2 separate regions of the Homo sapiens genome follow, and region 2 is linked to region 1. Evidence: fine-mapped expression QTL. Tissue or cell type: Th1 cells. Region 1 holds a variant in brackets; the other region holds the start of a gene. All regions are shown on one strand. Distances are between the middles of the regions.

Region 1 (8,150 bases):
GTGCTGGGTCCACTATGCATGGCGGAACGGTCCGGGCGCACGCTCACGGACCAGCCTCCCCCAGGCCGAGTATTTTGGAGCACTGGGCTGGGAATCTCTTGGCTCCGGGCCGCGAGCTCCGGCTCCTCCCAGGAAATAGCGTCAAGGAAGTGGGAGGGAGTGGCCTCGGCCTCGCCCCCGCGCCGCCTTGCACGACTGCCTTGAACACCCGGGTTGTTGCTTCCTTTGGTTACCGACTTGGTGCCATTCCGTAACCTGGGATCTTGACACTTCCTGCCTCCGCCTGCGGTCCTTGGACCTAGCTCTTCGTTGCAGAGCTTTGAAGAGAAGCGGTGGAATTGCTTGCTTTCGGGACGGGCAGGAGAAATCACTAGGGGAACACCAGTGCCCCGTGTCTGTCTATCCTCCTGGGCTAACGGGCAGGGCAAACCCTGGGCCAGACCCATCGATAGTCCACGGGTTCCCCAGACCGCATGGCAGTACCCAAGCGAGGGAAAGAGGGAACGATTTCTGGGGCCCAGAAGACCCACGGAAGAGGGCGTTATTGAGCTGGGTGACTGGAGGGGGACAGGCTTTCCACCCTGCAGTGGGGCGGGGCGCAAGGCCAGGCGACTAGTCTCATGGCTTCCGGACTGTAAGATCAGGTTACCCCTACCCTACAGTCTAACCTCTGCTCCCCAGTCCCCTCCTAGAATGGCCTAGAAGGGAGACCCTCCTGCCTGCCTCCTAAGACCCCCCGAAGGCTCTGAGGCACGTGGCCGCATGAATGTGGTCGAAGGCCTGTAGACCCGGTTTGGGGACTTAGCAGTGTCCCCGGGACTGCCCAGTGAGCCTCTGCGCTCTTAAACACTCACCATGCTGCTCTTACTCCGGAGCTGCCCAGAGTCCCAGCAAGATCTGGTGGGGTCGGTAGCAGACCACGTGTCCTGCCTTTCCTCAGCTCAGTGCCTGTTCTGGGGAGTCCTCCCAGCGGGGTTCTGGCCTGCATCGGCCCTGGACCAGCCTGGTGTCATCTGTGGAACCATTTTGTTCTACACCCCAGTTGTGTGATTTGTGGGGCCAGGCCGTTCCTAATGCCCAACCCATAGATACGATGACGGGGCTTTCAGTGAAGGATTCAGCTCCTATTTGTCTTTCCCAGGTTCCCCTGGACAGACAGTGGGGAAGGGCAGCAGAAGTTAGCCCAGCCTTTCCCATTAGTGTCCCAAGTCTTTGAGATGGGTAAAGAGGTTCTCAGGGCTGATCTGGCATCTCCTCCCCCATTCCTACCCTTTTCCAATTCCTGTCTCCCTCCCCTTGGGCCCCAGCTTTCTCTGCAAAATAATCCAGTCACCTCTTCCCTGGCCTCAGGCACTTAAACGCTGCAGAAGGGGAGGCCTAAATCCTTTATGACCCTTATGAAAGCTATGTCCCTCTTCACCGGGCACAGTGGCTCACACCTGTAATCCCAGCACTTTGGGAGGCTGAGGTGGGTGGATCACAAGGTCAGGAGTTCAAGACCAGCCTGACCAAAATGGTGAAACCCCGTCTCTACTAAATATACAAAAATTAGCCAGGCGTGGTGGCGGGCGCCTGTAATCCCAGCTACTCGGGAGACTGAGGCAGGAGAATTGCTTGAACCCGGGAAGCGGAGGTTGCAGTGAGTCAATATTGTGCCATTGCACTCCAGCCTGGGTGACAGAATGAGACTCCCTCCGTCTCAAAAAAAAAAAAAAAAAAAAAAAGCTATGGCCCTCTTCCTAAACATGTATACAATCCAGGGAGTTCACACATAATCCCATCCACATACCCCACACTTTATTTTTTCCTCAGAAAAGTGCGTACATAGACCCCACTTTTAATAACCAAGAACTAACAAACAGCTGATCATTCGTTTATTTTATTTCATTTTTTTGAGACGGAGTTTCACTCTTGTTGCCCAGGCTGGGATGCAGTGGCGCGATCTCGGCTGACAACACCTCCTCCCCCCTCCAAGGTTGAAGCGATTCTCTTGCCTCAGCCTCCCAAGTAGCTAGGACTGCAGGCGCCTGCCACCACGCCTGGCTAATTTTTTGCATTTTTAGTAGAGACGAGGTTTCACTATGTTACCAGGTTTCACTATGTTGGCCAGGCTGCTGGTCTGGAACTCCTGACCTCGTGATCCGCCCACCTTGGCCTCCCAAAGCGCTGGGATTACAGGCGTGAGCCACCGCGCCCGGCCATACATGGCAAGTTTCTACATGGTGTTTCAGACTTAGCTGATCACCCTCTACCCTCAGGCCAGATTAGATTCCACTTCTCCCTGTTCTTACAGTGCCGTTAGTGCTGAAAGGGGAACGTGCCTTGTTCATTTGGTTCTGCACAGGGTCCAGCCCAGTGCTTGGCACAAACGTGGTCTCGGCAGTGCTGCATCCCTGGCTTGACCTGGAGGTAGCAATTCCTTCAAGCCATTTGCTCATCTTACATTGGTTCGTGGGCCATGGAATGGTGTCGAGAGCTTTCTGCCTATCTTCCAAGGAGGTTTAGGTCCTGCCAAGAGCTCACAGATCCTATTTCTTGCCTTATCTCTGGCATTTATTTCTTCCTTAACCAGCCTAGCTTCAGTGCTCCAGAAAAGTGCCCTGCCCTTCCACACCAGGATCCCTAGCGACTCCCGAATGATGCTTTCTTGGACTCTGTTCACATGGCCTCAGCCCTTCTGCACCCTGCTGCACGAAACCTGGTGCCAGGCCAGGCCAGGCCAGCCGGATCCCTGCTTACTCCTTACCCTGACATCCCGCTGGTGGAGAGGGATGGAGGTAACTGCAAGTGAAAGACCAGTTAGAGGACCGCATCTGGAAGCTGTGCCAAATTTTAAATACTGTATATTTAAATATATATTTTTATATTATATACTATATATATAACATTATGAGCCACCAAACCCAAAGAACTATAATGAAGAGCCAAACAAAACAAAGTGGCTCAGGTTCTAGGGGACGTCCTAGGGTGGAGAAAGAGGCCTGGAAGGTGGGCAGCCCCTTCCATCGAGGGTGGGGCGGCCGCCTGACCCAGTCCACCTGCACCAGTGGGGTGTGGCATCAGTTAAGCAAAGGACCCTTAGGCCTATGCAACATTTCTGCCCCTAAGTTAGAGAACCACCTTTTAGAGTGGCGATCTCATGGGAGTGGCAGCTTGACTCTGCAGGAAATGTGGGTGCTATGAGTGCAGAACAGAAACTCTTACGCGTTCTGATATAAAAACAATACATGAAAGGATGTGGATTTAGCCGCAAAATCACGCTGTTTCAATTGAATAAAGGCACCGCTGGGATTCGAACCCAGGATCTCCTGTTTACTAGACAGGCGCTTTAACCAACTAAGCCACGGCGCCGAAGCTGCCATAAAGGTTCCTGAAATTCATCTACAAGAATATAGAGCTAGGAACCCGGACCGAGCTTTTTCAGATCTTTCTAGAACTAATTTGGTAACTCAACTGGCTCTTGCATCACTTGTCCATTCCTCGGATTTCCTTCAATGTCCAAAGACGTTAATCATAGATTTCAAACCAAAATCATAGACTCTAAATCAAATTCTCGATTCTAGAGTTCCTAGATGAGAGGTTTGGAGGGTGCCGACTGGATCATCCCATCCTGGAGAGAAATATGGTCAGTATGCTGAAGAAAAAAATATGACGTAGTCGGCAGGATTCGAACCTGCGCGGGGAGACCCCAATGGATTTCTAGTCCATCGCCTTAACCACTCGGCCACGACTACGAGGCTTAGGGCTTCGTTTTCATCCAATGCCTTTCTTACTTCCCTTGACTGACAAACATCTGCCTCCATGAAAGCGCTTCAGGGAAAAAAAGACGCGGCGGTTGCACGTGAACCTTCCTTTCACCCGGGTGCCCAGAGACTCCTCCCTCCAAGCCTTCGGGAGCGCTAGTGATTCAGGGAATAGGAAGCAGTAGGTGCAATATAATTCTGTTACCAGAAGGCAACTGGCTCCGGGTAGAAACTTCCGGATAACAGCAGAGGGTCAGAAAACAAAACACACACAAAAAAAAGCCACCCACTGGCCCGTACGGGGTTCGAACCCGCGACCTTGGCGTTATTAGCACCACGCTCTAACCAACTGAGCTAACCGGCCACTAACTTTCCGGGTCTACTTCAAATCTTAATATAGGGTATTGCTACCATAAAAGCAGCATAAATCCCAACATATGGGTTTAACCACGCTCTAAAGGTCTCCCAAACACGAACAAATCCTAACAGCCAGGAAGAAATGGCCTCCCAGTAGCTCTGAAAGATGTGCCTCAGCTCATCTTTCCACCTCTCCATCTATCAGTCCCCAGTAAAGAAATGCAGCAACACCAGCCAAAGGCATTGGTATCTCCAAAGAATTGTTCCTAGATCCCCTAATTGTACGGTTGTGATTTCGGAGCACCTTCTGGTCTCAAGGTATATCGATCAAGGATCTGCCTTAGGCCAGGCCCTTGGGAAACCTACAGGGCTAACCGTAGCCTGGGGCCCTATAGCACAGTCACCCAGAGTCCTCACCTGCCCCTGCTTGTGCCTGGCACTTGCCTCCCCCTACACCTTCTTTGTGCTTGTGAACACCTCTAGGCATTCAT[A/C]TTTGACTTCCTGCAGGGCCCAGCCTTACTGACTGAGACCATCATAGCTATGCTCTCTGCCTTGCCGCCAACTCCCCAATTTACTTCCTTTACAGACTGATTTTGGTACCATTTCTTCTGCTGGACGAAAAGCTCTTCTCTTCCAAATCACTTTCCACCTTTGGCCCTGGCGGCAAAGGGCTGAAATGATGATGAACGACTAGGAGTTCCTAGGAGGTGGACAACTAGGAGTCAGGAGGCCTGGGACCCCAGAGATGAGTACCAGTGAGAAATGACACCAGAGGGCTTCATTGCAGGTCAATAGGCCTGTCACCATCACCCCACAGCGAGCAAGTCTTTTGTTCCCTCAGCTCCTGCGACAAAGTCAGAACCCAGGTGCTCAGGGCCGCCTGTGAATGCAGGTGCCTTGTCCCAATCAGAGGACATATTAATAGGGCCATGATTTCCTGTTGCCACAATTTTGCCAAGGCAGGCTGGCACCAGAACACCAAAGAAGGGAAATTATAGTGGAGTAGCAGTTTGTGAATCTGGAGTCCTTGGTTCAATCACAGAACAAGTAGGGAGAGGAGCCAGGACCTAGGCCTTCAGGTTTTCAGCAAGGAAGGACTCTCAGGCCATCCTTGCAGTTCAGTTAACAGGAGGAAGCAAGGATCCCCAGAGAGCTGGAGTACTCTGACTCTCGGATAGAAAGGCAGGACAATCGGAGCCTGGGGTTCACGTGAGTCAGGAAAGGGAGCTCTCCACACTGGAATCGCTGTAGCCGAGGAGGTTCTGAGGTGGGAAGAGAGGAAAAACACACGTCTCAGGCATGTGGCTTTTAGTTCCCACCCACCATTCTCCTCCCTAACTCCAGAAATTCCCCATCAGTCCCTCATCCCTCTTCCTCCCAGGGACCCATCTATCTCTATCACCATGATCCCCCTATCATCATGATCCCCCCGTCTCCAACCTTACCTAATGGGACGATCTTCGACGGTTTCCTTTCCAGCTCAAAAGAAAGCACAATAGGACGGAGGACAGAGGGGCTAGTACAAAGTGTCCAGAGGAACATGGTCATGGGCTCGTCAACCCTGGCTGAAGACTAGAAAGAGAAGGTCAAGGTTAACTGGCTCCTAAACCCTTTGCCAAAAGCCCAGGAATTTGGGTATCCGAGTCCCTCCCTCCCAGCCACATTACACCTCAAGTTGGGCTCCAGGCCCTGCAAACTGCAAGACCACTCTGCCTGGCACTTGGACGAAATCTAGGAGGGAGGCCCACTCTCTAGGACACAGCCCTAGTGCTGCTGCCACATGGTGATTCCTACAGGTCACCACGGCTTCGGCAGTCCCATCCTCCACCAGGAGCCTATGGGGAGCAGGAGGAAATAAAAACGCCTATAGCAACCCAGGTTGCCAACACCCTGGACCCAACATGCCTCCCTCCCCGCTGTCTGCAGTCTTTGGCTCACAGATTTAGGAGCTTACCCTCATTCATTCGTTCAAAAAATATTAAGCAATTCTCATGAGCCAGGAATTATGCTAATGTAGAAACTGCAGATAGACAAAGTGGTCTCATAAGTAAATGGCACAATGGGTGCACGCCTTGTGCTCTCACCTGATGATGGCCTGGCTTATAGCTGTCTGCGTAGGGCAAGTGGAGCCCAGGCGAGTGCACTTTCCCTGGGATGAAGACAGTGGTTGGAAAAGTCCTCTTGGTCCCATCACATCCCTCTGGCACTCCATACTCAGTTCAGCCTGTTCCTTCCCTCCCTTACCTGCCGGCAGATGCTGGTACAATAAGCACACACCCAGAAGAGCTGAAGGCTGAAGACAGAGACGATATGGCAAGAGGCAGTGGCCTGGAATGGGGACTGACCACCCTGCAGAAGTTCAGCCAGGTAGATGTGGGGCAGGGGAATGCTAAATAAATACAGGGAGACAGAGACAGGGGTCAAGATAACAGAACAGGCAAAGGGGTTCTGAAAGCAGGGTGGGTCTAGAAGGACTTAGAGGGCATCAGGATGGGGACAGCAGTGGGTTCCATGCGCTCCTAGAAGCCCCATTTTAATTCCTGATCTCTGATAGTCATTGGTTATTTTTCAGGTTTGAACACCATGATGTTAGCCAAGAAATATTTGCATGTTAAGACTGAAAAGCCTTCAAAAGCCTAGAACACTAAATGATTCTGGGTACAATGATAGACACAGAGCATTTTTTATTTGGAGTAGAGAAGCTCCTCTGACTCAACACATCTTGTTGGGATTGGAGAAGACTGTAATGATGGCAAAATCTTCAGAACCAGGGACATGTGGGAGATGCAGATGTGAAGCCAGGAAGTTTAGGGGTTGGGGTCTGGGCACTGACCTGATGGTGGTCTCAGGGGGAAAACTCAGGACCTGCACATAAGTGGATGACCGGAAACAACAATAAACATTGTGAGATCTGCAAGTGGAAGAGGAATAGTGAGTGACCAGGAAGACAAGGCAAATTGGGGTAGAAGCTGGGACTCAGAGATCAAGCACCACAGAGTGGCCACTCCCCCTGAGGGACATATCCTAGCCATGGCTCTACCAAAGCTAGGGGAAGACTAGGAGGAGGACCAGCCTGCAACACCTCGTGAGGGTACTGGCTGGGCACAAATGGCAGACTGATATATGGAAACCTGTATGAAAGAGAAGGGGTCGCTGCAGCAAAGTTAAGCAGGGGTGCACATTCCAGAGAGCCACATCAGTAGCAAGAGGAGGCAGGTGACACTACACATCTTCACCTGGAAACCCTTTTCTCCAACTGGCTGAAGTGGACCCGGGCTCCTGGAAGTAGTCCTAGTGAGGGAGGCAAGTGTGGGTCTTCTATATATACATCCAGGTGAGGGGGGAATTCACATTCAGCAGTCTCAAGAGCGACTGTTAGCTTCACACACCTTCTCATGGCCCCCGTGTTCCCTATAGAAGGAAGGTGGGTGTTAGTAGGATCTGTGAAGTCCACAAAGTCCCATCACTCTATTTCATACCTTCCCCACAAAGGAAGGGTCATTACCCAGTTTCATCCAGAGAGACGCCACAAGGGGTTCACATAGTGTCCGTGACAAAATCTCAGCGGAGAAAGACACCAAGGAATCTGTGAAACTGGAAGGTCAGGGAAATACACTGAGAATGGAGGCACAAGAAAGCACAGAGTGGAGACAGTCAGATTCAAGGCAGAAAATGGAGCTAAAGTATCTGCTAGAACTTCATATATAAAGTCCTGAAAAAACCTGAGCTCTGCCACACTGCACACTAAGAGTAACAGGGCCTATGGGAAAAAGAGGGTTGTGGCAGATCATTCAAAACCCGCACAAGGTGGCTCACGCCCCTAAATCCCAGCACTTTGGGAGGCTGAGGTGGGAGGCTCACTTAAGGTCAAGAACTCAAGACCAGCCTGGCCAACATGACGAAACCCTGTCTCTACTAAAAATACAAAAAAACTAGCTGGGTGTGGTGGCGTGCACCCCTATAATCCCAGCTATTTGGGAGGCTGATGCAGGATAATCCTTCGAACCAGGGAAGTAGAGGTTTCAGTGAGCTGAGATCAGGCCATTGCAC
Region 2 (8,165 bases), 22 kb after region 1:
TCCAAGAACAGAAAACCAAATACTGCATGTTTGTTCCCACTTATAAGTGGGAGCTAAATAACGAGAACACGTGAACACAAAGAGGGAAATAACAGACACTGGGTCCTACTTGAGGGTGGGAAGAGAGAGATTGGAAAAAATACCCATCAAGTACTATGCTTAGTACAGGGGTGACGAAATAATCTCTATACCAAACCCCCATGACATGAGGTTACCTACATAATAAACCTGCGCACGTCCCCCTGAATCTAAAATAAAAGTTAAAAGGAAAAAAAAGTCTTCAAGTTCTAGATGTCTTCAGCATCCTTGTGGACAGCCCTACCACTGACTTTCAGCCCACTTCAGCCACACACTCATTCATGGTCAGAGTTGTGGAAGGCAGACCAAATCACCATTCAGAGTTGCCCCACCAGTATAAGCAAAGTTCCGACTCTCACGCTTTTTGTCTTCCTCTCCCAGTATTCTTTTGTAGTTCCTGTTTCTCGGATGGCCTATCCTTTGCTTGGTGCACTGAATACGACTGTCTCTCAAAGTGATCCCATGGCTTCAAGGTAAAATTACCTAAGTTTTGTTAAAAAGGCAAATTCGTGTTTTCATCTACTGAGTAAAAATGGAGCAGACTGGATGTGGTGGCTCTCGCCTGTAATCCCAGCACTCTGGGGGGCCAAGGTGGATCGCTCGAGCCCAGTAGTTCACTACTAGTCTGGGCAACAAGGCAAAGACCCGTCTCTACAAAAAAGAAAAATTAGCTGGGCATGGTGGCTCGTGCCTGTAGTCCCAGCTACTCGGGAGGCTGAGGTGGGAGGATCACCTGAGCCTGGGAAGGTTGAGACCCGCCTGGGCAACATGGTGAAACTCTAAAACAATTCAAAATTAGCTGGATTAGCCTGGCGTGGTAGCACATGCCAGTAGTCCCAGCTACTTGGGAGGCTGAGGTGGGAGGATCACCTTAGCCTGGGAAGGTTGAGACCCGCCTGGGCAACATGGTGAAACTCTAAAACAATTCAAAATTAGCTGGGTTAGCCTGGCGTGGTAGCACACGCCAGTAGTCCCAGCTACTTGGGAGGCTGAGGTGGGAGGATCGCTTGAGCCCAGGGAGGTTGAGGCTGCAGTGAGCCATGATGGTGCCACTGCACTCTAGCCTGGGTGACAGAGTAAGACCTTGTTTCAAAAAAAAAAAAAAAAAAAAAAAGGAGGGAGGAAGAGGAAGATCCAGATTAATACAGGCTGAAGTTTAAGAACACAATATGCTTTCCCACAATTATCTCAACCACTGCATGGGTTTAACAGCCATGGCCAGATGATGATTGTTCCTGTATGTCTACTTTAGCTGAGATCTCATTCCTGAGCTTTAGTCCTATCCATCTGCCAGACTCTCCATGGCCAATCCACAGGCAGCACACATGCCCAACACTGAACTTTCCACAAAACCCTGTCCTTTTCTAGAACTCTTCTAGTGTTATGTTCACTAACTTAGCAAATAGTACCCTTAACCAAACAGTTGTTCTATCCTGAAACCTAGATGTCCTCCTTAGCTCCTTCCTTTCCCTACATAGGTCCCAGTCCTGGCTGGGTGCAGTGGCTCACGCCTGTAATCCCAGCAGTTTCGGAGGCCAAGGCGGGCAGATCACGACGTCAGGAGATCGAGACCATCCTGGCTAACATGGTGAAACACCGTCTGTACTTAAAAAAAAGAAAAAAAATACAAAAATGAGCTGGGCATGGCGGCGCGTGCCTGTATGCCTGTAATTCCAGCTACTCGGGAGGCTGAGGCAGAAGAATCGCTTGAACCTGGGAGGCAGAGGTTGCAGTGAGCCGAGATCGCGTCACTGCACTCCAGCCTGGTGACAAAGCTAGACTCCGTCTCAAAACACACACACACACACACGCACACAAACCAATCCTTTAGATTGTATTTTCTTAACATCTTATTTATTTATTTATTTATTTATTTATTTATTTATTTATTTATTTGAGATGGAGTCTGGCTCTGTCGTCCAGGCTAGAGTGCAGTGGCGCGATCTCGGCTCACTGCAACCTCCACTTCCGTGGTTCCCTGCTCAGCTTCCTGAGCAGCTGGGATTACCGGCGTGTGCCACCACACCCAATTACCCTCATGTTAAAGTCGCTGCTTAGCAAGAGGTACAAAACTGTCAGCTCTGACCCCTCCACCACCACCCAACTGAACTTTTGAGTTTTTCAGACACCTGCTCTATCCTCCTGCCTTTGAATATGTGTTTGCTTCCGTCCTGAAACCCCTTCCGGCGCTTTTTTTTTTTTTTTTTTTTTTTTGACAGAGTCTCGCTCTGTTGCCCAGGCTGGAGTGCTGTGGCACAATCTCAGCTCACTGCAGCCTCCGTCTACCCGGTTCAAGCGATTCTCCTGCCTCAACCTTCTGAGTAGCTGGAATTACAGGTGCGCGCCACCACGCCCGGCTAATTTTTGTATTTTTAGTAGAGATGAGGTTTCACCATGTTGGTCAGGCTGGTCTCGAACTCCTGACCTCAAGTAATCCGCCCGCCTCCGCCTCCCACAGTGCTGGATTACAAGCGTGAGCCACCACACCCAGCCCCTTTCGGCGCTTTTTGCCTTCTACACGCACTTCGGGTCTCAGACGCTTTTACTTATTATGGTTGCCCTTTTCCCCTACAGCTCCGTCAAGGGTCTTCTCCAGGAACCCACAGCCCCATAGTTCCCCCATTAACCTGCTCCTGGTTTCCCACCAGGATTAAACCCTAGAGAGTGAACGGAGACCAGTTTAAGGCTCACAGCGGGCGCCGCGTGAATGAGGGAATAAACATTCGCAGAACCAGTAAGAGGTAGGAGCGGACCGACTCACAACCCCCTCACCCATGGGCCGGACGCGGCCAGCGAGCCCAGAGAGACAAGGCAGAGGAAATAGGAAGAGAAAGAGTATCTGTGACAAACAAGAAAAAAGGAACAAGAGACGTAATAGCAGCACTCACGGAGGAAGGGACCTGGGCCCGGCCAGCCGCCATGATGCGCCGGAGCTCCGCCCCCGGGAGGGGCAGGTGCTCGCTTGGGGGTGGGGATGGGGGTGGGGGGGCGCTCGGTGACGTCACCGGTGAGCGGGTTTCCTCGCCACCTCCAGCTCCTTCTCGCTGCTCACCCCCTCGCTTCCTAGAGACTCCGCGAGGCGCCTCGGTGCACCATCCCAACTCCCGACACCCCTGTCTCTTTTCTCTGATTTTTTTTTTTTTAAGACGAAGCCTGGTTCTGTCGCCCAGGCTGGAGTGCAGTGGCGCGATCTCGGCTCACTGCAACCCCCGCCTCCCAGGTTCAAGGGATTTTCCGGCCTCAGCCTCCTGAGTAGCTAGGATTACAGGCACCTGCCACCACCACGCCCGGCTAATTTTTTTTTTTTTTTTTTTTTTTGTATTTTTAGTAGAGACGGGGTTTCACCATGTGGCCAGGCTGGTCTCAAACTCCTGACCTCAGGTGATCCACCCGCCTCAGCCTCCCAAAGTGCTGGGATTACAGGCGTGAAACACAGCCCCTGGCCCTCTCTGATTTTTTTGAGACGAGGTCTCGCTCTATCGCCCAGGCTGGAGTGCAGCGGCGCCATCTCGGTTCACTGCAGCCTCGACCTCCCGGGCTCAAGCGATCCTCCCACCTCAGCCCACCAAGTAGCTGGGATCGCAGGCTTGCACCGCCACACCCGGCTAATTTTTGTATTTTTCTGTAGCGACATGGTTTCGCCATGTTGCCCAGACTGGTCTCGAACTCCTGGGCTCAAGCGATCTGCCCGCCTCGGGCTCCCAAAGTGCTCGGATTACAGGCGGGAGCCACCGCGCCCAGCCTCCGTCTCCCTCCTAAGTGACATCCTGTCCGGCATCCCGCAGGCCTTCAGATGGATGGGGTAGCAGAGCTCAGGAACTCAAACACAGCCCGCCTGGTGGATGACTTCTAAGCATCTTTCAGTCTCCCTGATCTTGCCAAGCAGAGAAGGGCTTCCTCGTAATGCCACCAAAGCACAACTTTCACATGCTTGCTTTATGGCCTTAACTAACTGATGTCATTACTTAACTGTCCCCGCGGGGACGGGGAACTGAATGTATTTTCACAAACGTCAGTTCAAGACAGATTTGTGGGAGAAACCACCTGGGGATAAACCTCTCCCCACCAAGAACCTAGAATTCGGCCGGGTGGCTGGGGAAAAGTGGGCGGGGCGTAGTCGCCCCGGCGCTGGCAGGTCCAGTCTCTGCCCGCGGCGCACGCGGATGACGTAACAAACGCGCGCGACGATTCGAGGTGCTCTGTGGCCGCGAGTGCATCTTCCACGTGAGTATAGTTACCGCGTGCGGACCTGGATCCTCCTCCAGGTGCAGCGTTTCGTCATCTAGCCCAAGCTTGGTCTGGCGGCTTCAGTATCCCCACCGGGCCGAGCTGTGTCTACTTGGTGCCCGCGTATTTGCTTTAGTGGAGGCGTCCATTCGTCCTATCTTGCGTGCGTTCCGCAGACCCCAGGCATGGCCGACCCCCATGTAAATTTAGCCCCATTGTCCCATTCATGGATTCAGCTAACAGAAAGACTGCCGGCCGCCTACTTTATATCAGGCACCATGCTGGTCATGGAATACAGCCCTCATGCACGCAAACCCTGTCTCTGAGCTCTTGAAGCTTATATTTTACTGGGAATGATAGACGGAAATCAAGTGGCTTAATAAACAAAATGCCTTCAGGAAGACTGTCCTGAAAGTTGGGGAGGGGCTGAAGAGTGGTGAGAATCAAGAGTTCATTAAGTCATTCCACAAGTTTTAGAATTTTTTTGCGTTTCAAGCCCTGGTATTGTTCTAAGCCTTGGTAATTCAATGGAAACGAAGCAGCAACATCCCATGCCCACGTAGAGATTTTTTTTCTAGTGGGGAATATAGAGCGAAAAATAAAAACATCCAATAGTGATAAGCGCTTTACAGGAAATTAAAATAGGGCCGGCCATCTGATAGTAACTACTTGAGTGGCTAGTGAAGCCTTTTCCACGAAGGCGAATCACCAGAAATCTAAATAACAAGAGCTAGCCATGCATATGTCAGGGTGAAAAAAATGCCTTCCAGGACTGAGCTTGGCAAGTTAGAGAAATAAAAAAGAAGCTAATGTGTGGTTGGTGCATTGTGGGTGAAAAAGAGAATGGTGTGAGATAGGGTTGGAAAGGTAGGCCAGAGAGTGGCCAGACTTGGTAAACCAGGATGCTGAGTTGGAATTTATACCATGTGTAATGGGAAGCCATAATCCACTTTATGCTGATGTGTGACAAATGAATTGTGGTTATGCAGTGGTCAGGAGGTTAATGCATTGGTCCAGGTGAGTGATGGTGGTGGCTTACTTGAACTAGAGTGAGGTAGTAGAGATGAAGAGATGAGAGATTTGAGACATGATTGGAAATAGATTTCCTGGTGGATTGGATTTAGAGAGTCTGAGGGAAAGAGAATTAAGGATGACTTCTGTGTTTTTGTCTTGAGCAACAAATTGGATGATGGTAGTGTTTACTGAGTGGCAAGACTAGGGGAACAGCAGAGTTTGGTGAGTAAAGCCAGGGTCCCGCTGAGAGGCAGTGGGACCAGAAATTGGATAGGTAGTTTGGGATAGATGGGGAGGGCCTTTGAATGTTAGGCTAAAAGTATTAACTGTAATAGTTCTGTTGCCTGATGCACACTGGAGGTCAATACACCAAGACACCAGGTTGCAGCAGAGAAAGAGGTTTAATCATAGGGCTGCTGAACAAGGAGACAGGAGGAAACCTCAAATCCATCTCCCAGAGTACTTTGGGGCTAGGGTTTTTAAAAAAGAGTTTGGAATAGGATTAGGATGAAGTGTGAAAATCATTGATTGAAGAGTGCAGGGTGAGGTCATGAAACAGGGAGATGAAGAAACTGATTCTCATGCTCACTTGGTTCCACTGTGGGAGTCTTTTTTTTTTTTTATTTTTTTTAATTTGAAAGATGAGGTCTGCCTGGCGCAGTCGCTCACGCCTATAATCCCAGCACTTTGGGAGGCTGAGGTGGGTGGATCACGAGTTCAAGAGATTGAGACCATCCTGGCGAACATGGTGAAACCCCATCTCTACTAAAAATACAAAAATTAGCTGGTCATGGTGGTGTGCACCTGTAGTCTCAGCTACTCGGGAGACCGAGGCAGGAGAATCGCGTGAACCCGCAAGGCAGAGGTTGCAGTGAGCCGAGATCGTGCCACTGTACTCCAGCCTGGCAACAGAGTGAGACCCCATCTCAAAAAAAGAAAAAGAAAGACGGGGTCTTGCTCTGTCACCCAGGCTGGAGTGCAGTGGCACAATCGTAGCTCACTGCAGCCTCAAACTCATGGGCTCAAGCGATCCTCTTACCTCAGCCTCTTGAGTAGCTGGGACCACAGGTACATGCCACCATGCCCCACTAATTTTTAATTTTTTTTTTTATAAAGACAGGGTCTTACCATGTTGCCCAGGGCTGGTCTCAAACTCCTGGGCTCAAGCAGTCCACTGCTTTGGCCTCCCAAAGTGCTGGGATTACAGGCATTGGGATTATAGGCGTGAGCCACTGCTCCTGGCTTCTGTGGGAGTCTTTGAGCTGGTGGAGTCAGCTGTTCTGCTGGAATTCAGGATCTGCTTAAGCAATTCTTTTTTTTTTTTTTTTTTTTTGAGTCAGAGTCTTACTCTGTCACCCAGGCTGGAGTGCAATGGCTCAATCTTGGCTCACTGCAACCTCTGCTTCCCAGGTTCCAGTGATTCTCCTGCCTCAGCCTCCCGAGTAGCTGGGACTACAGGTGCTTGCCACCACGCCCGGCTAATTTTTTGTATTTTTAATAGAGACAGGGTTTCACCACGTTGGCCAGGTTGGTCTTGAACTCCTGACCTCAAGTGATCTGCCCCTCTTGGCCTCCTAAAGTGCTAGGATTACAGATGTGAGCCACCATGCCCAGCCCTGCTTAAGCAATTCTTTTTTTTTGTTTTAATAATTTATGGGTCGGAATGGTGGCGCACGCCTGTAATCCCAACGCTTTGGGAGTCCGAGGCGGGCAGATCACTTGAGGTCAGGAGTTGGAGACCAGCCTGGCGAACATAGGGAAACCCCGTCTCTACTAATAATACAAAAATTAGCTGGGCGTGGTGGCGCATGCCTGTAATCTCAGCTACTTGGGAGGCTGAGGCAGGAGAATTGCTTGAACCCAGGTGGCAGAAGTTGCAGAGAGCCCAGATTGTGCCACTGCACTCCAGCCTGGGTGACAGAGTGAATCCATCTCAAAAAAAAAGAAAAAGAAAATAAATAAATAAATAAATAATTTATGACATGATATCATCAAGCAATAAATTCTTAAACAAAAGCTTTGTGATCAGAGATCCTTTTTTGTTTGTTTGTTTTTGTTTGTTTTGAGACAGAGTTTCACTCTTGTTGCCCAGGCTGGAGTGCAATGGCTCGATCTCAGCTCACTGCAACTTCCGCCTCCCGGGTTCGAGTGATTCTCCTGCCTCAGCCTCTCAATTAGCTGTGATTACAGGCACGCATCACCACGCCCGGCTAATTTTGTATTTTTTTTAGTAGAGATGAGGTTTCACCATGTTGGTCAGGCTGGTCTGGAACTCCTGATCTCAAGTTCTCACTGTGTTGCCCAGGCTGGAGTGCAGCGGCTTGATCACTGCTCACTGCAGCCTCCGCCTCCCCAGGCTCAAGTGATCTTCCCACCTCAGCCTCCCTAGTTGCTGGGACTACAGGCACATGCCAGCACACCCAGCAAATTTTTGTATCTTTTTTGAGAGAGATGGGGTTTTTGCCATGTTGCCCAGGTTGGTCTCGAACGCCTGTGCTCAATCCTCCCACCTCAGCCTCCAAAGGGCTAAGATTACAGGTGTTAGCCACTATGCCCCGCCCAATCTGGCCTCTTCTTATAAGGGCAGATTATAAGAGGTTTGGTGAGATTAGTAGCTCATTCTTGAGAGTTCCACTTTCATGACCTAATTACGTCCCAGAGGCCCCACCTCCAAATACCATAACATTGAGGATTAGGGTTTCAATATATGAATTGGGAGGGGGAGATACACAAACATTCAATCCATGGCTGATACCATTTCTCTCAGGAAATTTTTCCTGACACCTGAAGTGCAGGATTGGTGTCCACAGTCCCCTGACCTTCACCACACGGGACTGGAAATGTCT

The links. PIP is the estimated chance that this variant, and not a neighbour inherited with it, causes the effect.
Region 2: it holds the start of CTC1, and the variant in region 1 is fine-mapped to the expression of CTC1 in Th1 cells (Schmiedel 2018, PIP 0.95).

Annotation. Positions count from the first base shown.
Region 1 is chr17:8,222,958-8,231,107 of GRCh38, forward strand. It overlaps CTC1 (CST telomere replication complex component 1), which reads right to left. Exons shown (of 23, transcript NM_025099.6): 16 at 7,606-7,694; 17 at 7,337-7,511; 18 at 6,934-7,011; 19 at 6,345-6,489; 20 at 6,185-6,249; 21 at 5,770-5,935; 22 at 5,546-5,672; 23 at 1,858-5,362. The coding sequence ends at 5,223. LINC00324 (long intergenic non-protein coding RNA 324) reads right to left here and starts at 1,086. Exons shown (of 3, transcript NR_026951.1): 1 at 855-1,086; 2 at 1-317. It overlaps TRT-AGT1-2 (tRNA-Thr (anticodon AGT) 1-2), which reads right to left and starts at 3,351; the gene lies at 3,278-3,351. TRS-AGA2-6 (tRNA-Ser (anticodon AGA) 2-6) reads right to left here and starts at 3,734; the gene lies at 3,653-3,734. It also overlaps TRI-AAT4-1. RefSeq lists enhancers at 1-703, 250-379, 630-869. The variant A/C (reference allele first, on the strand shown) is at 4,592.
Region 2 is chr17:8,245,038-8,253,202 of GRCh38, forward strand. It overlaps CTC1 (CST telomere replication complex component 1), which reads right to left and starts at 3,019. Exons shown (of 23, transcript NM_025099.6): 1 at 2,967-3,019. The coding sequence starts at 2,999. PFAS (phosphoribosylformylglycinamidine synthase) reads left to right here and starts at 4,252. Exons shown (of 28, transcript NM_012393.3): 1 at 4,252-4,302. RefSeq lists enhancers at 2,816-2,955, 3,436-3,555, 3,680-4,436 and a silencer at 3,046-3,095.